4 separate regions of the Homo sapiens genome follow, and regions 1, 2 and 4 are each reported to be linked to region 3. Evidence: microRNA targets listed by miRTarBase, many of them from high-throughput screens and not tested one by one. Region 3 holds a microRNA gene; each other region holds the end of a gene's coding sequence.
The links. The annotated mature microRNA hsa-miR-5007-3p reads AUCAUAUGAACCAAACUCUAAU and lies in region 3 at 3,958-3,979, opposite strand. An mRNA with a match to its seed (bases 2 to 7 or 8) in the 3' UTR can be bound and repressed. Matches are read on the target gene's strand: a 7mer-m8 pairs with bases 2 to 8, a 7mer-A1 pairs with bases 2 to 7 and ends in A, and an 8mer does both.

Region 1 (8,398 bases), not on the chromosome of region 3:
ACCAGAGTCTTTAAAGTAGACAGCATCAAGAAAACACGTAAGCATGAAAAACCTTGTTAGCGTGGTTAAGTTAGTTAATTTTATGCTCTTAACATTTTAGAGCAACCAAGCATAGGTTCAGAGGTTTTCTCCTGTGTGTTCCTTTATTGATTAATGTTTGTTCCTTATTAGCGAACATTTAAAAACCTTTACTACTCCTTGCAAAAACAAAACTTGTTTTTTTTTTTTTGTTAAAAGAGAATTAGTCATACTTTTTAATGACATTGATGTGAAAATATCGTATTTTAAAAATCTGTGTTTTAAACATCTTGAATCTAAGATATTGGTGCCGTGGCTTTAGTCTTTCATCATATAATTTAAGAAAATGTATTTTCTTTGAAAAATTATTTCCAGAAACTTACGAATAGCTTGGTCCTGACTGAGTAGTTTTCATCATAGTGCAGTTAAGTCCTGCTGTTTAAGGCCTTATGGATTCTGATCGAAACAAACTTGCTTTTAGTAAATAAATAGCACCGAGATATGAAAGTCCAAGTAAATGGCAAAGTGAATTCTTTCTTTCCCAGAAAAATGCTCTCAAAAATTTGATTTTAGTATAAGTAACACTTTTACTTAGATATCATAAACTCATTATGATTTTACTGTAGATAGACTCAGCCCGAATTCTAAATTCTATGAGGGTAGAGACTGTTTTTGTCATTACTGTAATCCCAGAGTTTATCCTCATTCCTTGTACAAAAAATGTTTGTTATATCATTATATATTTGTAATTATGTATATTTTTATATAGTATTTTGTAATATACCCCCCATTAACTGTAACATTCTGAATTGATAACATTGTGTGTAATAACTTTTCTTAATGTTTTTGTCTTTCTCTGTAGGTTGGTATTTTGTATGGCATCTTTTTTTATCAAAATTCAAGTTTCTCCGGGAACTGGTGGGAGACACAGGATCCCAAGAGGGAGATCATGAGCCTTCAGGGTCTGAAACTGAAGAAGACACTTCCTCCTCTCCACACAGAATCAGATCCGCTCGCCAAAGGAGGGCACCTGCTGATGAAGGCCACAGACCCCTGACATAGTCCTGTACTTGTGAAGGATGAAAAGGCAGTTGCCAGCTTCTGTCTTTTACTGACTTCGCTTTGAAATTTACTAATGACTGAAGAACATTTGTATTGGATTTTAAGTCGAATTTTAAAAAAGATTTACATGTAAGCCATATAAAAATAAAGGGAACTGAAACCAAATTGGACTATTATAAATTTCATCTTAAAGATAATCTTTTGTTTCACCAGCTTTCTACTTATACACTTATTCCTTGGCTTTTGGGCTTATTTTCTTGCACTGGTGCAGATCTGGTAAACATTAAAGGCTTGAAAAACCATATTTTGTTAGCCCTAAAATGTACATTTTTCTTCCCATTTTAACTTATCTGAAATTGGGATGCATCTCATTACTGTCAACCAGGTGATAGTCATGTAACGCTCCTACCGTGTGCATGTGTGAATTTACAGCTTGTCATCGTGTCATCCCTTTAACCAACATGTGTTTTGTTGGTATCAAATGTGTCAGGTTTAATTGACATTTTAAAATGTCTTCAAAAAGATCACACTATGATTCAGCATTGAAACGAAAAGTTATTGTGTATGCAGAAAAGCATGGAAACAGAGCAGCAGGGCGTACATTTGATATTAGTGAAGCAAATATTCGTCGCTGGAGAAATGATCGCAATTCCATATTTTCCTGCAAAGCAACAACAAAATGTTTTACGGGACCTAAGAAAGGTAGGTACCCACAAGTAGATGAAGCTGTACTACGTTTCGTCAGTGAGACACGTGCAAAAGGATTGCCTATCACACGCCAAGCAATGCAATTGAAGGCAGGAGAAGTTGCCAAAACCCTAGGAATTGATGAAACAAAATTCAAAGCCACAAGAGGCTGGTGTGACCGATTCATGCGTCGAGCAGGACTATCATTAAGGCATCAAACATCGTTTTGTCCCAAGCTCCCCACTGCCATTAAACAGAAGACAGTGTTGGAGCACTCTTTCAAGAAGTGCTGCATAACCAGTACTCTTGACAACACCGGGAGAGACGTTCTGTGGAAAAATGCAGACATCAATGACTGTGGTTTGAAAAGTGATTCAGAAGAGTTGGATTCAGAATATGAAGTTATAATTATAACTTAACCAATTTATTTCACACATTTTCTTTACATATGCACAAGATTGATGTGATAAAAATCTGTTTAACTCAAAGCGCTGTTTCAATAAATATAAACATTTTCTGTGATATGAAAGCATTGTGTCATAGTTTAATGGGCAGTGTTTTTTCTTAGTGATACATATGGTGCATCTTAACAATTGGTAGTGTCTTAGGTTAAATTAAAAATGGTAGCTTGTAAATTTATTTTTCTTTTTAAGATAGCAGTTATTTATTGGGGAATTTGATTCTGACTCTTACAATGTTAAACTTGTAATCCTGTGTGAAACACATGTTTTTGGGGGGGAGGGGGTAACCAAGATTTCAGGGTAGTAACTTAGGAATCTAAGAACTATCTTCTACTTTAGGAAGAGTGGGATTAGTTACTCCCTTTGTATAGGAGGACTTTATGCTCAAGGAATGTGTTGTGGAGAAAAACACTTCTTCACAAACAATTCAGTGACAAGACCTCAAAGGTAATGCGTATTGAGGAAAACAGTAGTGGGTGAAAATTCCCGCTTAGCTGTAAAATGACTCTCTTGCCAGGTTTCCGTGTTTGTCTCAACTGAACTCTGGGCTGAGTGTTTACCAGGGAGAAGAGATGTGAATTAAACAACCTTCCTGTTTAGTGTTACCTGCTTTGTACAAGAATGAAGTGCAAAGCCAACTTACTTTATTAATCCAAGTTCTTTTTATGTTTTTCTTAACCTTTATTAAGGACTAGTCATCACAAAATATCTATTTAACCTCTATTTTATGATGGTGTGTTATTATGTTTGATACCTCATACTTCTTGCTTAGAGTTTTGTTTAACAGTTCACTGGCTCTGTCCCAATGTTTGTGATGAACACCTTTTTGCTATATTGTAGCTCTTGGAGATACTAAAAGAGAATTCACAGAACATAACTTTAGTTTTATGTGTTTGCTAGGGGAAGATTTCCTAGCAGCTGAGAGCAAGGCACAGTCTCTGTCTTCATTTCTTTATTAGATACAATTTTCTATTTTTATGTGACTCTAGGGCATAACAAAACAGTGACAGTTTCAAGCGTTAATTTTAATGCTTCCTACTAGCTAAATATCATCTTAAAATGATTATCAGAAAAAAAAATAATGCCCCCAAAAACTTTTGGGGGCATTATTTGGTACTGGGAGGATATTTAAATTAGATTTTTCATAGTCTATTGTTTTGAACTATGGATTCTGTTTTATGGTGGATACCTAAGGTTTATATAATAGTTGCTGGAAAACTTAAAGTAGCTGGTGAGCTTCCTGTTATGTCACTATTAAAGAATGATGGCTGATGTAACTCTGCCCCTGAAATCTACAAGGGTCATGCCCAAATTAATACAGGTTAACCTTTGTAGAGGTATATATGTTGGCATTATTTATTGACATTTATGCTTCAAGCATGTCTTATTTTATGTAATTTTAAGAAATACTCTATTTAACTTGTGAAATATACCTAAAAGCATACTAGTTAGCTCTTAGACTCTCACTTAGGGAGGGTAAAGAAACATCACTGATGCCAATATGAAGATCTATAAACAAATCCTTTGTTTAGAACTTTTTTCTCTTCGTGCACCTCACAACACACTTACCATGGTACATATTTCTTAATGCCACTAAGAAAGGCAAGATAGTGAACGCAGAATTATTTATGTGGTATAGTGTTTGTTTTCCTGTTTTAGTGCTTTTGTAGCTAAAACTTACTGGAACTGCATCACAACTACATTTGCAGTCTCAGTGGGAGGTGGACTAGCCTGTGGTTAATTTTAGAGCTTAAAAGTTTATAAGCATTAAAAACACATACATGTATTAGAATCTTGTCTAACCCCTCACAAAGGATGATGGTGATCAGCATGCCATCTTTTGAAGATTAATTCTAAAATTGAGGACTCTGGTAGGTTGTTTTATTTCCTTCCCAACCAGCCATTCATTTCCAATTGTTCTGCCTTTGAAACTTTTTGTGAAAATTGCCTGTACCAATTGCATTGGTTGCGTTGCTCTGATTTAAATGCCAAAAACACTAAATATTTGTGTAGTGCTGTTAAATGAGGTTTTTGATATTTCCATCAAAATGAATATAAAATTCACTTGATGGATTTTGTAGTGATGTTTTCACAGTTGAAACAAACATATTGCTGTGCGGTGGACAGCCACTTCACAGACATGCAGACCCATTTCTTTAGAGATATTAGGTTTAAAACCCATTTTAATTTTATTTTGCTGAAGGTTTGGAATATATAAAGTAATGGATTCACAAAATATGATATCTTAAAACATGTTGAAAGATTTGAAAGTGGTGCATTTTTACTTTTAAGAGCAGCAATCTTTGAAATTAGTCAACAATGCAGTCTTTTTTAAAAGTCAGTTTTCTCAAGTAGTATGTTGTAACGTAAGATGTAACTGATATAACTAGATTTTGACTGGTAAACTTAAAGTGCTTTTTATATTTGAGGTTGACTTTAAAAAGCCATTGAGCAGTCCTCAGAGGTTATGGACTCTCAAGCGACTAATGGAATAGTGTTCTGTTGTGAAGTCTAGAACTAAAGCACCTTGTATTGTCTGCTTCTAAAGTGTCCTATAGTTTTTAACTTAAAGTGTAAAGAGTAACATTTTATCTTATGTCAATTAAAGTTACATTTTTCATTTGTTGGTGTACATGTGCTACCTGTTTTATGGGGAATGTTTAACACGATCCTCCAAGTTGGTTCTATGCATAACCATTCACCAAATACTGCTGCTGTGATTCCTTGAAGGAAATATTCTGTGGTCTGCTATGATGCATTGCCATCTTGCTGCTTGACAATAGGTTTATAAATAATTAGAATTACGTGTTTTAATAGTACCTTTGTATATATAACAAGATGTAAAATTAAAGATGAGGAATGTGTGTAAATGATCATTCACTGTTTTTGTTTTAAAACTGGTCAGTACTATGAAGCTTCTGTGGTTTGTATGATGTTTTAACTTTCACTTTAAACTGCATAGAATAAATTAAATTGAAAACAACAAAAGTTATGTGTCTCTGGTTGATAAAGGATAATAAGTATGAAGGGTGCCTTGGACATGAAGGGATTTGAAAGCAGCCATTCTTACTAATGGTCCACACTTCACCCCATTTTTCAAATGAAAAGTCTAGAAGAATTAAGAGAATAGCAATAATATTTCTTAGTGCCATGAAAGTAAATGACTTAGGACATATATATAGCATTAAAGGACACACAGACACACACACACACATATAGTGTTAGAGCTACATTATTACATTTACCTTATTGTTTTCTTCCCATGCTGTATTCAACACCCTCAAGGTTGTTTTGTTAACCTGTTTGCCACAGATCATGTTTCACATTTTTGTTAGTATTAACCACCAGGAAGATTGAAGAAACTCATCAAAGCCAAGTAAAAAGATGGAGGAGTTTCTTTGAGAATGCAATTGAGAAAGAAAACCATGAATTTCATTGGCTGGGGCAAGTTGTGACTTCTCCAGGAGTGCTCAGCTGCCAAGAATGTAGGATGGGAAGAAGTGGATTGTGCTAGGGTTGGATTTTGCAAGGCAGGTGTGTCTGAAGGGCAGGGTCATTAGAGATTGCTGGAGATTGGCCCTGGAATTTGGGCTGCGTCATGAGAGAAGTTGGATCAGTAAGGCACTGGTAAACTGGATGAAAGGAAAGGGATAGGGAATTGAAGATAAAATGAATGTGACGTGTATGATAAGTTTGGGATGGAAATTAGGTGAAGTAGTTCTGAGTGATGACACTAAATACAGCCATAGAAAAGGGGAATCTGAGAACAGTGACTCATTTTAAGCATATGATGTGAGCCTCAGAATGGCCACTAATATTTTCCACATGATGGCTACAGTTGGAATGGAGAAGGTAACTATGACTTGGGGGCCATGTCAGGGACTTGGAAGACTTATCTTAAGGTCTGTTATGTCTGGTGGCTCTTAAAAGGAGGAGGGAACTTCCTGAAAATGGAAGAGGAATGTTCTGGGGGAGCTTCGAGAATGCTCTTTCCTCATCCTGGCCTCCCACCCCCTGGGCATCTCTACAAGTGCATTAGTTTATCTTGTGTAAGTAATTCAGCTGGATTGTAAGAATGATGCTGTTTACAAAGAACTTTGTGGGGGTTAGAGGAGGAAGGAGGGAAGGACAGCAAAAGCTTCACTAAGAATCTTGAAGAAAGGAGTTGGAGTTTTCCAAGTAGAGGATGAGGATTCTAGATAAAAGAATGTGCACAGGCAGTGTCATGGGAAGGTGCCTTGCTTGGAGAACTATAGATAGTTGGTCATTCCTGAAATAGAGAATGCACGTGTCCGGGGGTGGGGGTGGGGGTCCACTGTTTTGACAATAGAGATGTACAGTCTAGGTCACAAAAAGACTTTGTGTGCAGTGGCAAAGGCTTTGAAGTTCATGTCATATGGGACAGAGACTACTAAACTATTTTAAACAGAGAGCACTGATTTGCTTATTTAACATATGTTGAGTAGTCGACTAATCTTCCAGGCATCTGCACTAGTTGCTCGTGCTAACTGCAAGGAGGAGGACTGGTTGGAGGCACGATGGAAACAGGATGTCTCTTAACTGGTCCAAGCAAGAAAACAAAACTAATGGCAGACTGGAAAGGAGCAATGACCATGGGAAATTTGAGGATATGAAAAATCAATAGGACTTGAGATTAGATTGTGAAGGAGAAGGAGAAATGAAGGATGATTTCAACATTTAGCAGTTGATAACATGGGGGGATGCATACAGCAAGAGAAGTAGGTTTGGGATTGGGCATAGGGAGGTGGAAGATAGGAGTCCAGTTTTGGGCATACCATATTTGAATTTCAGGTGCTTATATGATATTACGTAGACAGAAATAACCAGTTGTACAAATAGTATGAGGGACATGGATTGAAAACACAGACTCAGTGTTATCACTATGTGTATGCATTTGAAGCTGTATGCAAAAATAGGATTCCCCAGGGTAGGGGGGTGGAATAAGAAGAGACCCAAGGTGACACTGCTGTGGTTTGAATGTTTTTGTTCCCTCCAAAAATTCATGTGTTGGAAACTTTATGCAATAGGGTTGGGAGGTGGGGCCTAATGGGAGGTGTTCAGGTCATGAGGGCCCTGATCTCATGAATGGATTAATGTCACTATAAAAAAGGCTTTCAGGCATGGGATCCCTTTTTTTTATTTTTTGAGATGGAGTCTCACTCTGTCTCCCAGGCTGGAGAGCAGTGGCACGATCTTGGCTCACTGCAACCTCTGCCTCCCGGGTTCAAGCGATTCTCCTGCCTCGGCCTCCCGAGTAACTGGGATTACAGGTGCCCTCCACCATGCCCCGCTAATTTTTGTATTTTTAGTAGAGACAGGGTTTCACCACATTGGCCAGGCTGGTCTCGAACTCCTGACCTCAGGTGATCCGCAGGTGTGGGCTCTCTTTTCTTCCATATGAGGACACAGTGTTCTTCCTCTGCGGAGGATATAGCAAGGAGATGCCATCTTGGAACCAGAGACCGAACCTGCCAGCACCTTGATCTTGGACTTCTCAGCCTCCAGAATTGTGAGAAATAAATTTCTGTCCTTTATAAATCACCCAGTCTCAGGTATTCTGTTATAGCAGCACAAAAAGAACTAAGGCTGTTAACAGTGTGGATATTTGTCCCCGCTAAACCTCATGTTGACATTTGATTCCCAGTGTTGGTGGTGGGGCCTAGCAGGAAGTGTTTGGATCATAGGGGAAGATCCCTCACGAAAGGCTTGGTGCCATTCTCTCAGTAGCGAGTGAGTTCTTGCTGTATTAGTTCCCAAGAGAGCTAGTTGTTAAATAAAGCCTGGCAGTTCCTCCCCAACCCCTGCTTCCTCTTCTCCATGCAATCCTGCACATGCAGGCTCCCCTTCACCTTCTGCCATGAATGGAAGCAGCCTGAGTTCCTCACCAGATGTCCAGTCTTCCAGCCAGTCAAGTCAAGAGCCAAATAAACCTTTTTTTAAAAAGAAAGAAAAAAAAAAAAAGAGGCTGGGGGCAGTGGCTCACGCCTGTAATCCCAGCACTTTGGGAGGCCAAGGTGGGCAGATCACGAGGTCAAGAGATGGAGACCATCCTGGCCAACGTGGTGAAACCCTGTCTCCACTAAAAATACAAAAATCAGCTGGGCGTGGTGGTGCACACCTGTAGTCCCAGCTACTTGGGAGGCTGAGGC
Region 2 (8,398 bases), not on the chromosome of region 3:
TGCCACACAAAAATAATCATATGGAACAGCCCCATCCCCAAGACACTGACTCGGTCCTCAGACCTATGGGCTTCCTATGACCCACCTCTCACCAGTCTCTCAGAAGTACATCAGTATTTCTTTTACCTGATTGATTACATATGAGTTCTCTGATGAGATCCTTCTAAGGATGGAAGAGATGAGCTCTTTCTAAAGATGAACGGAACTACCCTGAGCTCAGGTAATATAACGAAATAAAAGAAAACAAGATCCAGTGGAACTAAGAGAAACAGGAATGCAATCAAGCCACATGCAGCTGGTCAAAGCACACCTCATCTCAGGGAGAAATCCCCCACGGTGGTGGGAGAGGAGCTAATTGCATCGGTACTATCATATGACTAAAGCAGGATGAATGGTTTACAAGTCAGAACTTCTACATCAGTGGACTCAACACTTACAAATTGGACTGAAACATTTATATGGACATTAAAACGGGGCAGAAATCAAAGTAGATGATATATATGGAAAATTACCATGAAGAGAAGCACATCCTGTGGAGCTGTATATAGGATGCTGGTTTCAATCCGGATTCTTCGGTCACTTCTATTCCTAAGGGTAAATATAACATCATTCCTCTTTCCTTATCCCAAATCGTCTGCTAATTCCCACTTCCAACTTTTAGCAAAAAGGATTGTGAAAATCAGACTGAGGTGACAATTCTAAAACTAAGATGAATGAAAATGAAAATTATTAAGACCTGGAGCATTTTTCAAAAATAAACTAGAGAGGCCTTTTCCCTCTGATAGTCTATTTTACAACTAGTAAAGCGCATCATACAGAAACTTCCAATTCCTTAGAAGACTACAAAGGAATAAAATATGACACAGGTACAGTATTAGATGGATGGAAGTTTGACAGAAGCATAAAAACTCCACTTCACACTCTGTACAAATTTGGTATTGACCAGGAGGCAGTTTTTCACTTAAGATCTTTGAAACCAAGCAGTTGGGTGAAAAATTCTAAGATAACATTTCGAATGCTTTAATCAACAGACATATACAAATGAATTTTAAAATAAAACCAAGGCATCAATGAAGAAGATCTAACATGAAAGTCACCACATCTCACAATGAGAATCCGATCAGATGGAAGAAGGCAAAAGTCTAAATCATAGAGTGGCGGAGGGAGGCACGGGAGAGACGGAGGGCTCTGGGACTAAATCATCAGGGCATGGCCACCTGATGTCTTCCACTTTCAGGGTCCCAGGGCCCTAGGTGGAGGTTTGGGACAAATATGGTATTTGGTCACAAGGAGCAACAGTACGATCTGCTGTATCTGGAATGGGAAAGGCGCACAGAATCCTGGAAGGACTGAAGACATCAGATGCTATGATAACAAGATGGAGAGTACGAGGGCACAAGAGCTGTAAGGAGGCTCTGTGCTCTTCGGTGACAGGCATCAATCACACCACAGCAAGATGTCATTAAAAAGTTACTACTTTAGTGGAAGATCTGGAGTAGCTACAGGAAAAACTCTTTGGGAAAGTCCAGGTGGTAGAGAGAAAATACACATTTAAGCACTAGGAATAACTGTGATGCCACGCTCAGAGCAGGTGGGAGAAAGCAGTTCTCTCTGTTTGACTTGCAGAAGGCAATCTTTCTTCACAGAGAGGACCACAGCATTCAGTCCTCTAGAAAGTTCTATTAGTCTTGATCTTGTCTCTACAAAGAAAATAATGAGAATATCCATAGTGAGTTTGTGAGTACAACCTCCTCTGTTTTGACCAGGACTTTTAGAGTATTTCATTATAGTGATAATTCAAAAACCCTTGCCATATCTCAGAATTATTTTCTACAATTACTACAGAAATAGAATGACCATTTAATTACTTATATATACTTTAAAACGGTTCTTTACTGTCAGTGAAAACTCTGGTTAGAAATATAGAGTGACTGCTAAAAACTATGAGGTTTCTTTTTGGGGTGATGAAAATATGCTAAAGTTAGTGGGAAGGGCTGCACAACTCTGTGAATATACTAAAAAATATGGAATTGTATACTTTTATTTATTTATTTATTATTGAGATGGAGTCTCGCTCTGTCGCCCAGGCTGGAGTGCAGTGGCGTGATCTTGGCTCACTGCTGCCTATGCCTCCTGGGTTTGTCTCGTGCCTCAGCCTCCCAAGTAGCTGGGATTACAGGCACCCGCCACCACCGCCCGGCTAATTTTTGTATTTTTAATAGAGACGGGGTTTTGCCATGTTGTCCAGGCTGGTCTTGAACTTCTGACCTCAAGTGATCCACCCGCCATGGCCTCCCAAAGTGCTGGGATTACAGGCGTGAGCTACTGTGCCCGGCCAGAATTATATATTTGTAAAGGGTGAATTTTATGTTGTGTGAATTAATCTCAATAAAACTCTCACTTAGAAACTGTTTTGAAAATAAATTTTCTTAGAACCTCTCATGTATAAATACCTAGTGAATTTACCATACTTACTAAAGTCTTTCCCCAAATCTCTACCGATTATTTGTATAGTTTAACAATTTTAACTGTCAGGCTAAGCATTTTAAAATTTTAAGAACTGCTTTCTGCTTAAATTTGTTCACCTAATAATATATTAGAAGTTAAGACTAATAATCAGCATACAACCTTCAGTTTAAAATTTAAACCTTAGTTTAAACCTTAGTTTAAAAATTGCCTTTAAAATAATATTCAATTAAAGCCACCTTTTTACAACCAAACCTTTTTCTAAAGATGGCTTCTGCACTACTCAAATTACTCCACATATCAGAGCAATAGTTTGAGCAGTTTGAATCAACTGGTCACATCGATGCTCAACATTCTATTTGACTTACATACAGACTGAAAATGGAATCAACAGAAATTGATATGATCCAGGTATTTCAAGCTGATTTAGCTTAAACTTGGCTGGGAATGGTGAGAGTAAGTATGTTTGTTTCCACAAACCAAACTTCTCTAAACTTCATCATTTGAGATGAGTGGCCAGTCCAGCAATATTGCGTAGCAGTCCACCATGACACTTCCATAGAAAAAAATAAACATCCATATGGATATCATTTATAACACTTGTCAGAGAAGACCAACGCTACTAAATGGTACAATACTGCAAAGCTATATAAACTGTATTTGTGTACAAATATCTTTCTGTTGCATTGTGTTAAAGATGTTAAAAATCAAGGTTTTCAGGATAATAAGAAATATATACAATTAAAATATATTGGGGAGAAACATTACAATGTTAAAATAGAATAAAATATCAATATGAACTTATGATTTAAAATATATTTTAAATATAGCTATATTTTATAGCTCTGTCTGTCAAGGAAAAGGGCCTAAAAAAGGTATAACAAGCATCCCCAATTATCAGATTAGCATCTCTAATACTGATTAAAAAGAAACAGGGCTGGGTGCAGTGGCTTATGCCTGTAATCCCAGCACTTTGGGAGGCCAAGGCAGGCAGATCACCTGAGGTCAGGAGTTCGAGACCAGCCTGGCCAACATGGCGAAACCCCAACTCTACTAAAAATACAAAAAAAAAAAAAAAAAAAAAATAGCCAGGCGTGGTGGCTCATGCCTGTAGTCCCAGCTACTTGGGAGGCTGAGACATGAGAATCGCTTGAACCCAGGAGGTAGAGCTGCAGTGAGCTGAGATTGCGCCACTGCACTCCAACCTGGGTGACAGAGTGAGACTCTGTCTCAAAAAAAAAAAAAAAAAAGAAAAGAAAAGAAACAAGACTCCTTGAGGGAAACAGTTGATTCTAGGACACAGGCACAGAAGGTATAAGATGAATCTAGGATATCATCTTGGGCAAGAAAAGCTTTCAAAGATTAATGAGTTTTGGCAATAGAACACTAAGGATCCAGCTGGAAATAGCTCTCATTGGCCAAAGGTATGTCAATTCAAGCATCAAAAAGGAAAATGACTGTTACATGCAATAACATGGATGAATCTCACATAAAGCCAGACACAAAAAGAGTATAGACTATGTGTTCCTTGTAAATTCAAGAAGAGAACCTATGGTGATAGAGTTAGAAAAGCAATTATATGGTGGAGGAGGGAGGGACAACTGTTTGACTAGAAAGGAGTCTTTGTGGGTAGAGGAAATATAGATGTAAAAAAAAAAGCTGTAAACTTAAGATGTGTGCACTTTACTATTACTATATGTTATGCTTCAATAAAATAAGTGCCAATTAAAACATATCAAAGTAACAAAATCTACTATAACACTAAAAAAGACAAAGCCATAAACTCATTTGTTAACCATTTAAGGTGGCTTTTAACATATTTCTTACCTGGAAAATTGGTAACTTGAAGGGAATTTAATTGTCCCTTTAAATTTAAAAGGAAGGAGTTAAACAGTTACCAGAGGAACTGTACTTCAAAATACCTAAATGGCCTTATTTGATGAGGAAGAGCTTTACTTTATAGGAGAATAATTGACAAAGGAATGATTTAAAAAAAAAACATTCTTTTATAAACCCAAATAAAATTACTGTGTTAATTTTAACACAGGCCGAAATGATCAATTGGGGTAAAAACCATTAGGTGAACAGCTGATGGGTAAGTATACATTTGCATAGTGCCAAAATAACACCACACAGATTATTTTCTAGTGAAAAAGGGAAAAATAACTATAACTCAGAGGGATCAGACAGCCATCACCTAAACTATGCTCAATCATAACATCACTAATGGTGGGTCAATGAGATGTCATGGGTCTCAGTGTAATTCTGCAACAGTGTTTATGGATATTCTAGCAAAAAATGCTCCATTAGCTCTTTCCTTTCCTTTCCTTCCCTTCCCTCCCCTCCCCTCCCTTCCCCTTCCCCCTCCCTTTCCTTCCTTCCTTTCTTCCTTTCCTTCTTTTCCTTCCTTTCCTTCCTTCTTTTCCTTCCTTTCCTTCCTTCTTTTCTTTCTTTTTTTTTTTTTTGACCAGCATGGACAACATGGCAAAACCCTGTCTCTACTAAAAATATAAAAATTAGCCAGGCATGGTGGCCCACGCCTGTAATCCCAGCTACTCAGGTGGCTGAGGAATGAGAATCACTTGAAGCCAGGAGGCAGAGGTTGCAGTGAATGATCATTGACATGGAAAGATGGGATGGTTAAATGAAACAAAAGCAGGTTGTAAAATAGTATGAATAGTGTAATCTCATTTGCAAAAAAAATACATATATACACAAATGGCAAAATATCTGGAAGAATATACACGAAGCTATAGCAGTGGCAATCTCTGGGTTTTGGGAACACAGAGGTTTCTCCTTCTTTTTTGGCTTACTTATGTTTTCTTTCTTCTTCTTCTTCTTCTTCTTTTTTTTTTTTTTTTTTGAGATGGAGTCTAGCTCTATCGCCCAGGCTGGAGTGCAGTGGTACTATCTTGGCTCACTGCAACCTCTGTCTCCTGGGTTCAAGCAATTCTCCTGCTTCAGCCTCTCAAGTAGCTGGAATTACAGGCGTGTGCCACCACACCCGGCTAATTTTTGTATTTTTAGTAGAGACAGAGTTTCACCATATTGGCCTGGCTGGTCTCCAACTCCTGACTTCAAGTGATCCACCCACCTCGGCCTCTCAAAGTGCTGGGGTTACTGGCGTGAGCCACTGCGCCCAGCCAATGTTTTCTTATTTTTTATAATGCACATATACTGCTTTTTTGTTAATACAGGATTATTTTAAGTTAAATGAAGCAGAACCCCACTGTTGCTAGTAGAGTTGAAGCTTAAGGGTACATAGTCAGAAGAAAACTACAGATTATTTTCCTTATTACCATAAAACAGTGAAACTTGTTCTGTGATTGATAACTTTTCCTTTATAATGTTAACATTTTTTATTGTGATAAGCTATACATAACATAGAACTTACCACCTTTTTCTTATTTGAGACACGGTCTTATTCTGTCCCCCAGGCTGGTGTGCAGTGGTGCGAATCATAGCTCACTACAGCCTGGAAGTCCTGGGCTCAAGTGATCCTCCCGCCTCAGCTTCCTGAGTAGCTAGGACTACAGACCCACACCACCACACACGGCTAATTTTACCTTTTTAAATTTTTTGCTGAGACAGAGGTCTCACTATGTTGCCTAGGCTGGTCTTGAACTCCTGGCTTCAAGAGATCATCCAGCCTCAGCCTCCCAAAGTGTTGGGATTACAGGCGTGAGCCACCACACCCAGCCCAGAACTTACCATCTTAACCATTGCTACATGTACAGTTCAGTGGCATTGAGTACATTCACGCTGTTGTGCAAGCATCACCACCATCCATCTCCAGAAGTTTTTCATCTTTCCACCTGAAACTTTGTACCCATGAAACAATGCCTCCCCATTCCATCTTCGTCGCTAGCCCCTGGCAACCTCCCTTCCACTTTGTGTCTCTGCATTTGACTACTCTAGGTACTTCACATAAGTGGAATCATAGTATTTGTCCTTTTATGTCTGGTTTATTTCACTTAGCATAATGACTTCAAGATTCACCCATGTTGCAGCACATATCAGAATGTCCTTCCTTTTTAAGGCCAAATAATATTCCATTGGATGGATAGATCACCTTTTATCTTGATTGATCATTTTAACTTATTTTTCAGTTTCAACCTACAACGTTTATGAGGACAAACTGCAAACTTAATTGCTTTTTAAATAAAATTGATGGCAGGCCAAATCCCTGCTTGCTGTTGTGAATACCTCTACACTGCAAGAATTCCTGGAACAGTGAGTGGGACACCTTTATTCAGACAAATCAGATACTTTGTAATGGAAATCAAGGTGGTATATTACTGTTTTGCTTTGTATTTTGAAGCATCCCTGGGTTCACTGCTGGGATTGCTCCAATCATCGGCTTCAGGCGTGGTCTTGTAATGGCGCCATGCGGACTTATTAAAAACTGGAAGTCTCTCAAATGACTCACTTGAAAGAGCCTATTGGAGAAACAAAAATATACACCAAAGGTCGACAGTGTCATTTTTCTCAAGTGAAATAGTAACCCAAATTTTATTATTTAAAACATCAGAAACCTTAATACATATTTTCAAAATGATATTAAAATTACACCTTAGTAGTTTACTTAGACTGGCCAGGAAAACATTAAAGCTTTTTTAAAGGAATGAAAACATTTGCTCATTCAAAATCAGAACTGAAATACACATGACCAGAACAAAACATATTTTAATTCAGCTCATACTGCTTTGAGATGCTCAACTGTTTTGACTATACCTGGTGACTGGTCTCACAAAGGGCCCAGGAAGAGATACAGTCTCATGCATCCCAGGTTTATAAACACACACCATCAAGTATATTAAATATCGCATTACTTAGATGCATGGGCATCTAAGATAAATACTCCCAGTAACTGGTTAAATTCTGGTATCACATACATAGGTTGAGTATCCCTTTGAAATGCCTGGGAACAGGCCGGGCACAGTGGCTCACACCTGTAATCCCAGCACTTTGGGAGGCTGAGGCAGGTGGATCACCTGAGGTCAGGAGTTCGAGACCAGCCTGGCCAACATGGTGAAACCCTGTCTCTACTAAAAATACAAAAAATTAGCCGGGTGTGGTGGCTCACACCTGTAATCCCAGCTACTCAGGAGGCTGAGGCAGGAGCATGGCTTGAACCCAGGAGGCAGAGGTTGCAGTGAGCCGAGATGGCAGTACTGCACTCCAGCCTGGGTGACAGAGTGAGACTCTATCTCAAAAAAAAAAAAAAAGAAAAAGAAAGAAACAAAAAAAAAGAAAAGAAAGAAAGAAATGCTTGGGACCAGAAGTAGTTCTGATTTTTTCCGATTTTGGAATATTTGCATTGTGCTTACCTGTTAAGCATCCCTAATCTGAAAATCTGAAATCTGGGGTGCTCCAATAAGCATTTCCTTTAAGCTTGACCTTTGAGCAAGCATCACGTTGGCGCTCAAAAAGTTCCAGATTTTCAACCATTTTGGATTGCAGATTCTTGGGTTAGGGATGCTTGACCCACAGTGGCATGTTATGCCACTGTTTAAAAGAATGAGCCAGTTCTACATAAATGGATCTGGAAAGATCTCTAAGACAGATTGCAAAGTAAAAAAAATAAGAAGGTGCTGAAATTTCATTTATGTGGGAAAAATTCTATTTTTCCCATATTTATAAATGTAGAATCAACTCTAGGAGGATCCATAAGACGCTGAGACCGGTGGTGATCTTCGCTGAACAGAACTGGCGGTTTAGGGCCAGTGGGAGGAGAGACTTCATTTTTCCTTTTGTAGCTTTTAAATTTTTATTATGTGCCTATATTACCTATTCAAAAAAATGTTACAAATATTCTAGAGTTTAGAAATAAAAGCCCAATGATCACCAATGAATAAGAAAAACTGTGTTACAGAGAAGTTTGTTATTAAATGAATCTTTTACATAACCATATTATGATTACTGAATTCTT
Region 3 (8,398 bases):
ATACATCCTCTGAAATCCAGGTGGATGTTCCCAAACATTAATTCTTGACTTCTGTGCACCAGTAGGCTCAACATCACATGGAAACCACGAAGGCTTGGGGCTTGCACCCTCTGAAGCAATGGCTTGAGTTGTATCTTGGCCCGATTTAGCCACAGCTGGAGCTAAAGCAGCTGGGATGCAGGACACTATGTCCCGAGGCTGCACAGAGCAGGGGTCCTGGACCCAGACCACAGAACCATTTTTTTCTCCTAGGCCTCTAAGCCTGTGATGGGAGGTGCTGCCAGGAAGGGTCTCTGATATGCCCTGGAGACATTTTCACCATTGTCTTGGTGATTTACATTTGGCTCCCTGTTATTTATGCAAATTTCTGAAGCAGTCTTGAATTTCTTCCCAGAAAATGAGTTTTTCTTATCTGTTGCATCATCAGGTGGCAAATTTTCCAAACTTTTATGGTCTGCTTCCTCTTGAATGCTTTGCTGCTTAAAATTTATTCCAACAGATACCCTAAATCATCTCTCTCAAGTTTAAAGTTTTGCAGACCTGTAGGGCAGAGGCAAACTGCCACCAGTATCTTTGCTAGAATATAGCAAGGTAGCCTTTACTTCAGTTCCCAACAAGTTTGTCATCTCCATCTGAAACCCCTTAAACCTAGACTTCATTGTCTTTATCACTATCAGCATTTTGGTCAAAGCCATTCAACAAGTCTCTAGGAAGTTCCAAACTTTCCCACATCTTCCTGTCTTCTGAGACCTCCATGTCTCTTGGACATTCCAAATTTTCCCACATTTTCTTGTCTTCTTCTGATTCCTCCAAACTATTTCAACCTCTGTCTATTGTCCAGTTCCAAAACTGCTTCCACATTTTCAATCATCCTTATAACAGCACCCACTCTCTGTGTTACCAATTTACTATATTAGTCTGTTCTCGTGCTGCTAATAAAGACATACCCAATACTGGGTAATTCATAAAGAAAAGAGGTTTAATTGACTCACAGTTCCACATGGCTTGGGAGGCCTTGGGAAACTTACAATTATGATGGAAGAGGAAGCACACATGTTCTTCATATGATAGCAGGAAGGAGAAGTGCTGAGCCAAAGGGGGAAAAGCCCCTAAGAAAACCATCAGATCTCATGAGAACTTCCTATCATGAGAACAGTATGGGGGTAACTGCCTCCATGATTCAATTACCTAACATTGGGTTCCTCCATGATATGTGGGGATTATGGGAACTACAATTCAAGATGAGATTTGGGTGGGGACACAGTCAAACCATATCACACATTAAGAAAAATTTTAAAGAGTATTGATTATTTTATGATATAAATAGGAACAGAAATATTTTATCAATGAATGAATATTTAATTTAAGCCAATGACTAAGCTGCTCCCTATTATAGATTATATATTATTAAGGAGTGTGGTTTGTCTTTTCCAACTTGTTTCCATCCTGAATGTTTATTATTCAGGAAACTTTAAGACAATGAGAATTTTAATATTAACATTACATCTTTGACACCTGAGGGAAAAATAAGATGTTAACATAAACTAAAGTCTCACAGAAACCACTTTCTGAGTAATTTCATTGCTCTCCATTATGCCATCTTCTCACAAACACTTTTTAAATTAAACAAAAAGAGATAAACATTATTGCCATGTTCTGTTAAATGGGATGTGTTGGTTAATATTGTATAATTTAAGAATTTTCTTACCCTTCAATTATATATTTGATGGTACTGTAAATTAAGACATGGTAGAAGACATTTTCAAATAAACAACTATTTATTATTGAAGGGAAGTGAGAAAACATTTTCAGTTTGATTAAAATTCATTGAGAGTCTAAATGTATAATACATAATTATCAATATACTTACAAATTGTGAAAATATACATTTGAGAATTTGTAACAGTAAAACCAGCCACCTTTTATTAAAGAGACTGAATATGTTAAAAGGCCCAAAGTTAAATTCTTTTTCCTTTTAGGATAGCCCTTACATTAATTTTCTATTTCTACACAACAAATTGTCACAAACTTAGTGACTTAAAACAATACCTATTCATTTTTTCAGTTTCCATAGGTTAGGATTCCAAGTACATGCTCATGTCCAAGAGGCTGCCTGCACTTCCCTGCCATGAAGCCCTTTCTGTAGAAATTTTCACAACCTCTCTGTTTTGTTCTTTAAGGTCAGCAAGAGAAGAGCTATACAACAATTTATTAAAATGAAGTCTTATAAGTGTATTGTAATCTAATCACTGCAGAGATACCCCAGCACGTTTTGTCATATTCCATTAAATGCAAGTTCCAGTTTTGCCCACATTCAAGGGTATGGTATTATACAATAGGTGACTTCCTGGGGGTTACACTAGAGTGTGTCCACCCACAGCTCAGATTGACTCACATATGTTTATATTTGAAAGGTTGCAATACTAAGGTTGTTTCTGGTATCATAGAATACTTAATAGCATTTACTCAGTATGACTCTTTCAATATCCCTTGAGTAAGTTACTAGTGAGTACTATAAATCTCCAAACCACATAACGTAAAGGAGTGCTCAGAATAGTAAATTACACATAGTAAATATGTAATAAATGTAATGTGTCAACATTATTATTATTTGTATGATTACTGATATATGCATTGGGTTTGAAGATCAGTGTGATAAGCCATACTTGAGTTTCAATGGGACCTGCAATAGATGCACTACAACAGAACAAATAATATGATTGGAGTGACAGAAAAATTAACAACCAAAGATAGATCAAAATCTGAGCTTCCTGATGAACTAGAAACATTGTGAATGCTTAGGTTTCTTGTAATTCTGTAGACTCTCAAACAGTGCTTGTTTGTTTAATTAGTTAATGCAGACTTGGTAGGTGGACTGGAAATGTAGTGACAATGAGTAAAAGATGGGTTTTTAGAGAAACATGTAGGCGGCATTGGGTATGTCTTTGGGATATGTCTATAGTAGGTGAAATTTTGCATCTTTTCTACAGACACTAGCGGAACCAGGAGAGAAGATAATTTCCCTATTATAGCTGATGTCAGCTTACTATTATAAGTAGAAAGGCATGACTCAAAGATAGACTAGTAGAAGAGGGGTATCTCATTAATTATGTCCCCAATAGCTATAATCACTCCTACTTAAAATTTTTTATCCTAACATTACTTTTTTTCTAAGAAGAAATGTTGATAGGCTGTGAAAATAAGACGATCACAAGAAAAAAATAACTCAAACCATCAAATTTACTGTCTTATTTAATGTCTAGCAATTCTTGCCATTTTCAGGGATTCTCTCCTACTCTGCCTTTTACATTGAAGAATATTTATTCTACGTTGTTAGTTCTTGGCTACTGAGCTTTTAGTTTTGACCATATTTATTCGTCGAATCATTAGTTATCACTGGGGTAGTAAGACTGGATATTATATAAACAGTGAAGAGACATCCCTAACAAATATGCTTGTAGAACTGGGGATAGTTAATTATCAGCAGGTTACAAGTGAGCTTAGTCTTTGAAGAATAAATGAAGAAACAAAAGTGAAAACATTGAGGAAAGCATTCCAGAAAGATGAATACAAATGTGCAAAACTTTGGAAACATGAAAATGCATGATGTTTTATAAAGAGAATTTTAGAAGAAGCTTTATGTCTGGAAGGTAAATGAGTTTTGAAGATTTGGCAGCCATGTGAGGCTAAAGGGAGAATCTGGGGCCAAAATATTAACAACTTGGGGGAGCTGAAAGTTTGCAAATATAGAAGTGACGAAGATCTACATTTTACAGACATCTCAGGAGATGAATTTAGGGTTGGTTTTAAATGACAAGAGTTCATTTAGAAAGATGGTACAGTAATACAGGTGAAAAAAATAAAAATTTAATTAAAAGAAGCATTCATCAGTATAAGAAAGAGAAGGCTGATTTGGAAGATATTTGAGGGATAATTTTTAACAGAAATTATTGACTAATTAGAGTTTGGTTCATATGATTTAGCTCTGTGTCAAACCATATCAGCCAGACTCTAATTAGTCACCAAGGTTTACCAAATCTCATGTCAAATTGTAATCCCCAGTCTTAGAGAGGGGTGTCCATTGGGAAGTGACTGGATCATGAGGGTAGAGTTCTCAAAAATGGTTAGGCACCACTGCCTCAGTGCCGTTCTCTGATAGTGAGTCAGTTATCACAAAGTCTGGTTGTTTTAAAAGTGTGTGGCACCACTCCCCTCTCTCTCTTCCTTCTGCTTCAGCCATGTGAAGTGCTGACTCCTTGTTTGCCACCCACCATGGTTGTAAATTTCCTAAGGACTCCCTAGAAACCAAGCAGATGCTGTCATACTTCCTACATACAACCTTCACAACCATAAGCCAATTAAATCTCTTTTTTTTAATAAATTACCCAGTCTCAGGCATTTTTTTATAGCAATGTGAGAATGAACTAATACACTGGCTAAAGAAGCAACATTTACCTCAAACTGCACTGCCCAATAAGATATTCTTGAGCCCGATGTGGTTATCCACTTTTACTTTATATTGATTAATAGGTAAATTTAATTCCTGAGCTGGCATGAAGGAATCCTGAGTCTCAGCAACTCAGGAGATTGAGGCAAGAATTTGAGACCCCCATCTCTAAAACAAAAAATTATATCTCAGTAGAAATAGTCAATTTTAAGTACTCAATAGCTTCATGTGGCTTGTGGCTACCATATTGGAAAGCACAAATAAACAAGATTTTCTTCCTTATTGAACGATCTATTGGACAGCAGTAATATAGAGTCAATTCCTGGTATCCTTTGTGTTTATCAGAAGAAACTTATGAAAAAATCCAATTGGGAAATAACATAATGAGATAAGTCATAAATTTATTATGTTTGCATTAAATGTGGGTATACAATTGTTTTCCACCACTCTTCTGCTTTTACCAATAATGCATCAAGAATATCTGTGTTCTTATAGCTTTCTATTGAGATGCAAAATTGTAGGCAAAATTCCTAAGTGATTATTTATTATCTGCAAGAACATGTAATATTTAAAACAAATAATGATTGCAAAGTTCTCCTCTAATTTATATTATCTAGTTAAATGAGAAATCTTATTTCCCATGCAATAGCTTACAAAACTATATAATACAAAAAATAGAGATTTTCCAATCCAATCTCAGTGTAAAATTGCATATTTTACTTCATATGTATCTGACAAGTGATTCTAAATATTATTACATCTTTATAAGCAATTTGTATAGTTTTTTAGGTCTGACTTTATTATATTTTAAGCTTCTTTACTCCATTGGTATTGATTTGTATGGCATTTTTATACATTTAGAATATAAAATTAATCACAAAGTTGTCTTATAAGTTAAAAATCCCATTTCCCCATTATTTATTTCTTCATTTACTTTGTTTATGATGTAAGTGTAGCCCCTTTAAAATGTTGTTAAATATATCAATATTTCCTTTATGATTTGTGGAATATAACTCTTATTTATGTATAAGATCACTCTTGCCTTCTAGTATCTTGATAGTTCTTATGTTAAAGTATGAATATTTGATCTCCCATTTATTTTTCTATAAATTTATTTTAACCTACTAAGTGGTAGAACATTAAAAAATTGTAGCTATATACAATTGTATGAAAAAAAGAAAAGCACTAAGATTTCTTTGTTTTGTTTTTGTTGTTGTTAAGTGGCAAAAAGTGGCTAAAAAATCCCCTAGACTTTGTATGTTTGCATGCAAAGGATAAGCAGTAGAAATCTAATGTTTATAATAAAATATTGGAATGATTCCAAATAAATTAAAGAAAAAGTAAGTAATATTTTTCTCAATACTATACTCAGGCATTACAATAAGTCAAAAACAGAATAATTTAAGTTTATTTTTTTTAAAAAAAGCAAAATATTCATGCTTTTAAATTTGTGGAAGACCTTATAAAAATAATAACCTAAAAGAATTAACTGATACAATGTTGACAATTGGATTAATGTGATTGAAACTTATAGAGAAATTAAAAGATAAACTTGGCTTTAAGCTGTTGGAAAAATACATAGTTTATATGACAGAAATAAAACCAAGAATAGTATGTTAGAAAATTACGGAATCAAGGTTGCTTATATAATCTGTTCCTTAAGAATAAGTATCAATTAATAACTATTAAGGAAATAGAAACTGCATTGGCAATACCAGCATATCCTGAAGAACAAACTGTAAAACAGACTGAAGTGTTTTATTTCTAGTCAACTAGTTGAATGAAACTCCCATAAAGCCGTAGGTGTGAATGGTTGGAAGGGAAGCAATGCAGAAAGAAGCAGTGTCAAAAGACACTCTATCCCCTAGCCCTGCCCAAACTCATTTTCTTACATATCATTTTTACTCAATGATAGATTGGTGCTGCACATATCCAACTTTATTAATAGATGCGTTTGACTTGGAAAATGCAGACTGTATGGTCACCTGATGTCATCTTCAGTTTGTTCTCTTCTAAGGGCTAATAGTAAGTCAGAAGCTAATTCTCAAGAAGTAGGAAATTTACTTTCAGAAGAGAACATTGATTTACTCCAAAATCCTAGAAGTTGTCCTTGTGGTTCTTCTATTAGTGTCTATCAGAATGGCCTATAAAGCATCTCTATTTACCACAGATACTTTGAATATCAATGGATTTACTGAATCATTAGGCCATGGAGAAGAGCATCTTGTACTTTGGCCTGTATTTATTGAAAAGTCACCTCTTACTATATAGCTCTCAAAGATATAGGCAGCCTTAATATATGATTTGGTAAATATGCTGAAGAAGCACTCTCAACTGTGGTATGTTGTCTCCAAAATCTTGAAAACCCTGCCATGCATTGAGCTTTTACATTTTTTTTGTGACAGTGCAAAATGAAAAAATATATTTGCTACCTTCGAGGCAAGTATAGACATATTCCAGACATTTGAAACCACGAAACTTTAATGAAGAGGTGGATCCATGCATTTTTGTGGAATTACTGCCCAGATTCTGGCTAGAATTTACCTTACGAAACTATGTCATAGTAATTGCTACCTCTTACACATCAGATTCAATAAACTCAATGTCATCAATGTAGTGGACAAGACTGGGGCTTTGTGGAATGTCATGATGATCAAACTCTCTGCAAATCAGATCATATCTAGAAGAAAAAAAAATGATACAACCCTGAAACAAGGCTCTGAAGGTTTACTGTTAGCACAGCTAGGTAAAAGCAACTGACTTCTGAGGATCTTTACAGTATGGAGAAGAAAAGCATTAGCCATATCAGTAGGAGTTTATCAAGTGTTCAATGATGTATTTCATCATCCTGGTAATAAGTACAGTACTTAATAGGTAATTTTTCAATCATCACCCTCCTCCAACCCTCTACTCTCAAGTAGGCTCTGATGTCTATTGTTCTCTTCTTTGTGTCCCTGTGCACTCAATGCATATTCCTGCTATATAAGAGAGACACGTGGTATTTGGTTTTCTGTTCTTGCATTAGTTCACTTAAGTTAATGGCCTCCAGCTTTATCCACGTTGCTGCAAAGGACATGGTCTTGTTCCTTTTCATGTCTGCATAGTATTCCGTGGTATATGTATCCTATTTTCCTTATCCATTCTACCACCGATGGGCATTTAGGTTGATTCCATGTCTTTGCAATTGTGAATAGTGCTCTGATGAACATTCACATCCATGTTTCCTTCTGGTAGAATAATTTATATTCCTTTGGGTATATACCCAATCATGGGATTGCTGGATCAAATGGTAATTCTGCTTTAAGTTCTTTCAGAAATCATCAAACTGCTTTCCATAATGGTTAACCCAACTCACATTGCCCCCAACAGTTTATAAGCATTCCCTTTTCTTTACAACCTCACCAGCATCTCTTATTTTTTTAGTTTTTAATAATGGCTGTTCCGACTGGTTTAAGATGGTATCTCATTGGGGTTTTGATTTATACTTCTCTAATGATTAGTGGTTTGAGCATTTTTTCATACATCTGTGTCTTCTTTTGAAAAGTGTCTGTTCATATCATTTGCTCACTTTTTAATGGGGTTGTTTGTTTTCTTGCCTGTAAATTTGTTTAAATTCCTTATGGATTGTGGATATTAGGCCTTTATTGGATGCATAGCTTGCAAATATTTTCTCCCATTTTGTAGACTGTCTGTTTACTCTGCTGACAATTTCATTTTTTGTGCAGAAGCTTTTTAGTTTAACTAGGTCCATCTGTCAATTTTTGTTTTTGTTGCAGTTGTTTTTGACATCTTCATTATAGAACCTGTGTCAGGGCCTGTGCCCAAAATGGTATTTCCTAGGTTATCCTCCAGGATTTTTATAGTTGTAGGTCATATTTTTAAGTCCTTAATTCATCTTGAGTTTATTTTCTTATGTGGTATAAGTGAAACAGTGTCAGTATTCTGCATATG
Region 4 (8,398 bases), not on the chromosome of region 3:
ATTCTCTGCCCACATTGTACTTTCACATACTTCTTTTACCCTTAGTGGTTTGTACTTATGCCTGGTCTAACTAGATTGTCTCCCTGTAACAGACTTCTTGATTCAACAAAGCAGCTCTGAATCAGCCTGAAACCTATGGCACACTGCAAAATGGCAAACATTCAATAGGTATTTGCCCAGTAAATGTTAATGAAAGGAAAAAAATTCAAACTTCAGTTGGAATAGGATTAGAGACAAGTTAAAAAAAAGTTTCCCATAGAAATCTTCCTCATCGTAAATATCATCATCCTAAATGTCCCGAGTCTTTCCATGGGTCTAATTTACCAAATCATGAAGACTCTCTTTCTCACTGTGTATGTGTAGTGGGAGAGGCAGAGACAGAACGGTTTTTTTTTTTTTTTGCAAGTCTGCTCTCTGGATTCGTTTTTCTGGGGATGAAATCTCAGGCTATGTAGCTTTTCTGGTCCCTTTTTGGTAATCAACAAATCATCAGTTTCTCTAGGTATTAAAAAGCCTACACTTTTGAAACACCAAGAGGCCAAACTCTCTCTTAATTGAAAACATAATTCTGCCTCTTACTGAGGTCTTTGGGTGGGAAGCTTAAAGACAGCAGTGTTGGGGCAATTGGTTTTTCTTTTCCTCCCTCCACCTTCTTTCCCATTCAAGAGCTGTTGCTGCCCTTTCTGGAGGGGAGGGAATTAGAAAAAAAGATCCTGCCTTACCCAGTCACTGTTAATTATTACTTTGAGCCAGGGTGGGGAATGACTTTCTTTCCTGGAATACACCCTGCTGGAAACCACAGCTGAGATTCTCTAAGCTGGCAGCTTCCAACCTCTCCTCCCTCAACAGCTTCAACATTATATGGCACTCAGCTGCAGGGTGCCTGGCTCCAGGCCGGCAGTCCATTTGTGCAGGGTAGTTTTCAAGATGGCTCATAGCCCATCTCTTTCAGTGACCAGCGTGGCCTATGGGAAACATACATCTTGACTCCATTATTGGTAGGAGTACTCTTTAGTTAACTGCCACAGGCCAGTTCAGACACGTCTTACCCTGAGAGCCTTTTCAGAGTCAGGTACCATCCCTGTGTCCCCCAGCATCTGAAGATCACAGGTGAAGGTCTCCAAGTAGTTCACTTAAAAAATACCTCAGTAGGTTTAAGAACAGGGAAAGCTCCCAATTCATTCTGTCAGGAGTATGACTCTCATCCCCAAACTGGACAGATATATAATATGAAAACTACAGACCAATATTCCTTATGAATATAGATGCAAACATTCTAAACAAAATACTAGCAAACCAAATCCAGCAGCATAGAACAAGGTTTATGTAGCATGGACAACTGAGATTATCCCAGGAATGCAAAGTTAATTCAATATACAAAAGTCCATTAATACAACATATTAATAAAGGACAAAACAACATGAAAATCTTGATACAGAAGAAGCATTTAACAAAACCCACAGCCCCTCCTTTTTTTTTTTTTGATTAAAAAACACTCAGTAAACTAGGTTTAATAAAAGAATTTCCTCAACTTGAAGCAAACCCACAGCTAGCTAACATCATACTCAATGGTGAAAGACTGAATGCTTTCCCCTTAAAATCAGGAACAAGAAAAAGATGTCTGCTCTTGTCACTTCTATCCAATATTGTACTGGAGGTGCTAGCCAGCACACTAAGGCAAGAAAATGAAATAATAGGAATCTAGACTGGAAAGGAAGAAGTAAAAGTATTTCTGTTCACAGATGCATGATCTCATATGCAAAAAATACTAAGTGACAAAAAAAGAATTTTAGAAAAGCTACAATATACAAAATCAATATACAAAAATTAATTTTATTTCTAACACCAGTGATGAATACAAAAATAAAAATTAGAAAATAATCATATAATTAAAGTGGCATCAGTAAAATACTTAGAAAAAAATTAAAGACGTCAAGACTTGCACACTGAAATCTCTAAAACATCACTGAAATAAAGACCTAAGCAAATGCAAAGACATCCCACAGTCATGGAACAGAAAACCTAACACCATTAAAATAGCAGTTATTTCTCAAATTTATCTACCAATTCAACTAAATCCCTATCAAGATCCCAGCTGTTTTGCAGGAATTGACACAATGATCATATAAAAATTCATATGCAATGCAAGGGACCCAAAACAGACAAAATGATTTTGGGGAAAAAAAAAAAAAAAATGGAGGACTTGCACATCCCAAATCTAAACTTACTACCAAGCTACAGCCATCAAGACAGTGCGGTGCTGGTATAACGACAGACATATAGGGCAATGGAGTAAGACTGAGAATCCAGAAAGTCTTATATTTATGGTCAACTGTTCTTTGACAAGGGTACCAGGACCATTCATGGGGAAATAATAGTCTTTTCAACAACTGGTGCTTGGGCAGATGGATATACAGATACCAATGCACTTATGCAAAAAATGGATGAAATAGGAAACTTCACTACATTCTACTGCATGCTCGGTCATTTTCAATCATTTAGGTGGCAACACTGACAAGATAACAGAAAGATGGAGGTAATAACATGTGAAAGGCAAAATGGTTTGTTTTTTTTTTTAAAAATGACAGTCTCTATCATGAATTTACTTACACTCCAGGCAAAGGTTATTAGAAGAAAAAAAGATGTAAGAAAATTCCTTAACTGAAATGTGGAAAGAGTATCAAGAGGAGACCCTAAGACACTCTGTAAGAATCCCAGTGACTCCTCACTGTTCAACTAAGAAATGTACCCCATTATGCTGTGCTACCACGGAAGCATTGGAGGCACTTTGGGGGTTGATGAAGTCTTCATGGATGAGGTACTTTAAATATCTGGTCATGAAGAGTATTTGAGAAATATGACAAGTGAAGATGCTGGGTAGGAATGCAGCGAGGAAAGTGTGTAACACAAGGCCAAATTGGAAAGGTCAGTGAGGGGGCAATCTGTGGAGGCACTGAATGCAGAGGATATTAAAATTAGCAAGATAGTGTTCTAGCACAATGAAAAGGATTGGAAGAGGGAGATGAGAGTCAGGGAGTGAAATTAGGCAGCTGCTAAGAATGTCCGGGTGAGTCAGAGGATCAGGACCTGTAAGGGCAGTATAAAGAAGGAAGGAATGATGGGAGAGGTTTAGGGGGAAAGAAGTGACAACCTGTGACAATTGAGGAATGAGAGATTTTGATGATTGGGGTGAAGGTTACATTTCTTAAAAAGAAACAAAGAATGGTCGGTCGATAGAGATGCAAGATGAAGAATTTTGTTTTTAGGACTACTGACTATGAGGTAACAAAGAAATCCCAGAGACAGAGGTCTGAGCAAAAGATATGGGATTGGGGAAGAATCTTTGGGAGTGACTGAGGTTGACTAGAGGGAACTGGGCAAGAACAGGTAAGGACTTTAAGCAGAATTGGAGGAGTATCCATCTAAAATCTGGGTAAACTGGGATGGAAAAACAAGTAGCCAGAGAAGCAACAGCCCAAGCTAGGGTGTTGTCAAGGTTATAGATGTTACTGATTTTGGCAATGAGGAGATTATAAGGATCCTTGAAGACTGTACTTTCGGTGAAACTACCATGCATTAGTAGCCTTTCACAGTGATATCTACCCCACACCTGCATCAAAATCTTGCAGTGCCTATTAATAAATGCCAACCCACTAACGGGGAGGGGAGAAAAGACTTGGGACTCTGTACTTGTAAAACCCTCTACCCTCCCCAGGCAATTCTTTACACACTAACACTGTTGAGGTAAAAGGAGACAAGTGAGGGAGCAAATGGAAGGTGTGTTTTTGGATTATACAGTGGCTCATGGAAGGGTGGGAGGGGTACAGATGGCCCTTAGACACTGGCGGAAAGTCAGAGAAAAAAAATTACAGTAAGCAGGTAAAGGGATCAAGACTACACAGGGACTAGTCTTGGGACGACATTTCTTCCTCTGACAGTTTGTATGGAATTCTTGAGAAAAATTCCTCGAAGGGGCCTGAAATCTCAGAATGGTCATGTTTTTAATGGGAATAGGGAGTGATGCTGCCCCATTACAACCATCTGTTCTAACAGAATGTCTGTACCGAGGAGGGATGAGTAACATCGGCAAGTTCTGTTCGAAGCCTTTTTCAAGTTTCTTTTTGATATGTATCTATCTATCTATCATCTCCCTATACAAGCAAGCATCCCCAAAAGTAGTTGTCTCAGGAAACCAGGGTTAGGATGACCAGCTCATTTGCTGGAGCTGCCAAGGTCCAGAAAAGTTTGGCTGCAGGCTGTTTTCATGTTTTATGTATGTTTGAAATGTTCTATAATAATAAAAGGTTAAAAAAGTTTACATTTATTTGGAAAACCAGTTACTTTAGTTTATGGTTCCTTTTTTTCCCTCCAGAGCTTCCTGGAGATTGAGGTCTAATTCAAAGAAAACCAAAATATATAATAGAGTACCTGGGCAAAAAAAGTACTTTTATAACATAACATTTGGGGTAGAGGAAGTATCCACTGTAGTCAAAATGTCTATGTTTTGCTCTTCCTTATTGTTCAGGGACATTCCATTAAATAGTAATGAAAAGGCAGCAAAAGTAAGAGGAGTGACAACATGCCCGGCATAATTAAGCAAGCTAGAGCAGCTATTCTGTGCAACCGACGATTTTTTTTCTCTAAAATTTTAAGGGTAGGTTCATTCTGACTCTGTTAAAAGTCTACTTGATGTGAACAACTCTATATCTGATAACCTATTTCAATTACCACTTTAAAACTTGTCATATGGATACGTTATTACAATTGTAGAACTTTAATAAATACCATAATAATAAAACTTGAGAACTGAAGAGCACACATTTCTTCACGAATTTATTATATAAAACGCCCTCAGAGTATTTAATTTCTCCTCACTTTAATTACACATTAAGAAGCACAGTGGATGAGAAGCCTTTAAGATGACTACAGTTGCACGAAGGTCCCTTTCATCAAGGTAGCGTATGTACCCTAACAGTGTTCTAAAGGCTGGCCCAGAAAAACCCCATGTTACCTTATCACAATATGGAAAGCATTGTCTTCTTTTTCCACTAAATTAAATTATGGTGAAAAGTGCCACAGTTTTATTTAGCATTATGGTACATAACAAACAGTTCTGTCTCAATTATGAAAAAAATTAATTAAAATAATCCTGAAAGACATCCTTTTTCTCCCCCCAATGATTTGAAAGCTGCATTTTTCCTGCCAATTTCAAACAAACAAATCATCAGGTTGATCTACAGTAATCAGTTAAAACAATCAGTCAATCAATCAATCAATCACCAAGGCACAAGCTCAGCACATTAGCTATAGCTTGTAGCAAAAGGATATATCAATGTCTCACCTTAGTTAAAAATACATAATCCTTTTATTTTATAATGCAATAAAAGAAATTAACAACATCACATACACAGAAGACTAGGAAAGGGGAAACTACTTACTTCTGGAAATCAGTAATGTAAACCTACTTGTACTTTTCCATAGTACATGAAAGTAACGTTTAACATGTTTTGAATTAATTAATTAAATTTAATCTGTGGGGCTATACAATGTAATTCTTAGGAGTAATAGTTTCATTCATTTCCAGGTCAGCTTACTGTATGATTAAGTAACACAAGGCACAGTAGCCATCTTTTTCATTATGTTGCAACACTGATCACGTGCCTCGATAAAATGGCTGATTCAACAAGATGATGGCAACACGAAGGGGAGACTTTGGATTGTCTATTTAAAATCTAGGTAATAAGTAAGTAATTAATAAAAACTCTATCTTAAGTGCACTTTCACATGCTTTTTGTTTATAATAAACAAACAACAAACTTCCTAACTTTGTTGCAATAGGCTTGACTACCATTTCATTTGGCCAAATGCACTTTCCCCAGTAAACTTAAAACAACAACGAGAACAACAAGAACAAAAATCCCTGTCCTTTCATATACTAAGAAAGAGGATTGGCTACTGAAACAGTTCATTGCAAGACACATGAAGACGACATACTGTGGCATGAGTTGTTTTTGTTTTTAATTTGTTGTGCTGTTACTAAAGTTCTGAGGGCTGCAGTTAAAACATTCCAATTTCTCCCTTCCTTCCATCTTTCTTTATTGATTGATTCTCAAGATTTTGCACAGAAAACTCTTTGGGGGCTAGAACAGCAGTAATTGCATCACACTGTTTTCAAGACTTCAAGTTTCAAAAGCAAATCATTAAAAAAAATACAGTTCCTGATTTGAGTTAGATACAGGGACAAAAAAGTAGCACATACTTGAAGGTTACGTGGTCTACAAATGGTGGCAATATTTTCCTTGGGAGAGTAGTTCTGTTGGTATATATTTTTTAAATACTCAAAAGGCTCAACCTCAAGCAGTAATAAACACAAGCAAAAGTGATTTAACCCTTAAAATAAATATTCAGAAAAACCTCTCTGTACATACAAGTGAAAGAATATGTAACACTTTCACGCAAAAAAATAATTATAATAATAATAAAGGATTTGTTCATATATGTAGCTGAAATCTGCTGTTCCAGCCCACATGTCCCCAATAAAGAAGGGAGGCACAGACATAGGTGACTACTGTGGTTGACTATCTTACAGCCTTTTTGTACTGGGACACTATCACCACCAAAAATTTATCCCTCGTTATATTTTTAAAATTTTTTAAATTTTTTCTTTTTTTTTCCTTCCTTTTTTTTGTTTTATTTTGTTTTGTTTTGTTTTACAGCATGCCAAATCCTTTGGCATACGTGATGGCCTTCAACAATCTCTCTTTAAGTTTTTCTTTGCTTGAGTATTCCGGAAGTAAAAGCACATTAAAGCAAGTATGAGATGTAGGTAACCTAAATAGAGAAAAGGGGAAAAAAACAGGAAAACTGTAAGTCATGGGAAATACACTTAGAATTAAATGCTCCTATTTTTAGATTGTATATAGTTGAGACGGTCTGCAATGCAAACTATACATTAATGCAAATCATAAACTTTTTGTTGTGTAACTACCAAGTTGCCTTTATCCTATAAATTACTCAAAGCTAGTGACGATGATAAGATACTGTATCCATTGAGTTTTTACTACATAACAGATACCATTTTAGGTACTGAATTCTTACAGTTCATTTAACTAAATCTTTCCACAACAAAACCACAGAGAGGACATCAGTAAATGCACTTTAGAGGTTAGGTCACTGAGAAGTCAAGTAACTTCCTCTAAGGTGGAGAAAATACTCAAACCTGTTTTACAAGACTGCAAAGTGTGTGCTCTTAAATGCTTATTAGAAACACTGCTGGCAATATGACTAAGAAAATGATTTGATAACAGGATTCTAGCACAATCAAATGATAATCTTCCGAGCCTCAATGTAACCATTCTAAATAGATGATCATGTTATATGGCTTTCAATTAACAAGCTGGGAATCAAAAAAGTAAATGAATCACACTAATTTGATTCCAAACCAATGTGAGCCCCATAATAATTTTTAACTAGGGCAATTTCTTAAAAGTTTCCTCACACAATGACAGCAAAGTATTTTCTCAATTGTCTAATATGATTTGGGGATTTGTATATAAAATCACGAATGTGCTCAGAAACTATAAAGACAGTTCATATGTATGTGACGAGGAATGCAAGGTTTTCGGTAGGTATACAGTCACAAGTTAATAATTACCTACCTTTCTGTGTCTGGGCCATTTTTGGCTATAATCATCTTTAATTTTCCTAGTCCTCCCACAGGTGCTCTGTCTGTGCCCGTTGTAAACTGCAAGAAGAGTCTTTTCTGTTCATCTGTAAATGAATGAACGATTTCCCAGAACTCCCTAATGAGAAAAAATACAATACTGGTTTCAGTTTGGCATTCATTATGACTGGTACTAACATAAGCTTATGATTTGCATTAAAACTATATTAAGAGACAACTTGGAAGTTAATTATCAGGATAGTATCACTTCTGGTGATTTAAAAATTTCCAAGCAAATTTATCCTGAACAGCTCTGAATACGTAAAAATTTAGATTAGATTACAATATAGTAAAATATTAGTACTACAATAGTAAAAAATTGAGAAAACCCAAGTGTGTAGTAACAGGAAGTGACTATTTAAACTATGGTATAATCACATTATGCAGTCAGTAATGAGCAAAAGACAAAATCCTATGAATTGAAAAAGACTGAAATGAATATTTGGAAAAATTAACTCCAGGTGCCTTTGGGTATATATTTTATTTATCCTTTCTCCTTTATTCTCCTGGTCTACTCATCCTTTAACTCAACTTTGGGAGGAAAAAGTGATACAGATTAAGGACAAAAGAAAAAAAGACCCCCTGCCCCAACCAACTGGCCCCAAATGCAAACAACTACATACCTAATAGCAGTAATACAAAAGTTCAATTTTTATATGAACTAGAATACTTTAA

Region 1: the mRNA of SMIM13 is a reported target of hsa-miR-5007-3p. Seed matches in the 3' UTR shown: 7mer-A1 at 2,162-2,168, 7mer-A1 at 2,289-2,295 and 7mer-A1 at 3,728-3,734.
Region 2: miRTarBase lists PDK3 as a target of hsa-miR-5007-3p. The part of its 3' UTR that is shown has no 7-base or 8-base seed match.
Region 4: miRTarBase lists UBE3A as a target of hsa-miR-5007-3p. Seed matches in the 3' UTR shown: 7mer-A1 at 6,491-6,497, 7mer-A1 at 5,928-5,934, 7mer-m8 at 4,743-4,749, 8mer at 2,133-2,140 and 7mer-m8 at 1,753-1,759.

The regions. Positions count from the first base shown.
Region 1 is chr6:11,133,523-11,141,920 of GRCh38, forward strand. SMIM13 (small integral membrane protein 13) reads left to right here. Exons shown (of 2, transcript NM_001135575.2): 2 at 881-5,211. The coding sequence ends at 1,080. Among named protein-coding and RNA genes, the nearest start is that of ERVFRD-1, 26 kb to the left of the region's middle.
Region 2 is chrX:24,532,436-24,540,833 of GRCh38, reverse strand. It overlaps PDK3 (pyruvate dehydrogenase kinase 3), which reads right to left. Exons shown (of 11, transcript NM_005391.5): 11 at 6,412-6,905. The coding sequence ends at 6,762. Among named protein-coding and RNA genes, the nearest start is that of PDK3, 71 kb to the right of the region's middle.
Region 3 is chr13:55,170,090-55,178,487 of GRCh38, reverse strand. MIR5007 (microRNA 5007) reads right to left here and starts at 4,034; the gene lies at 3,940-4,034. All of the region lies in intron 4 of LINC02335 (long intergenic non-protein coding RNA 2335), which reads right to left.
Region 4 is chr15:25,332,427-25,340,824 of GRCh38, forward strand. UBE3A (ubiquitin protein ligase E3A) reads right to left here. Exons shown (of 13, transcript NM_130839.5): 12 at 7,659-7,802; 13 at 1,302-6,831. The coding sequence ends at 6,711. The region is part of intron 146 of SNHG14 (small nucleolar RNA host gene 14); the gene reads left to right. Among named protein-coding and RNA genes, the nearest start is that of SNORD109B, 58 kb to the left of the region's middle.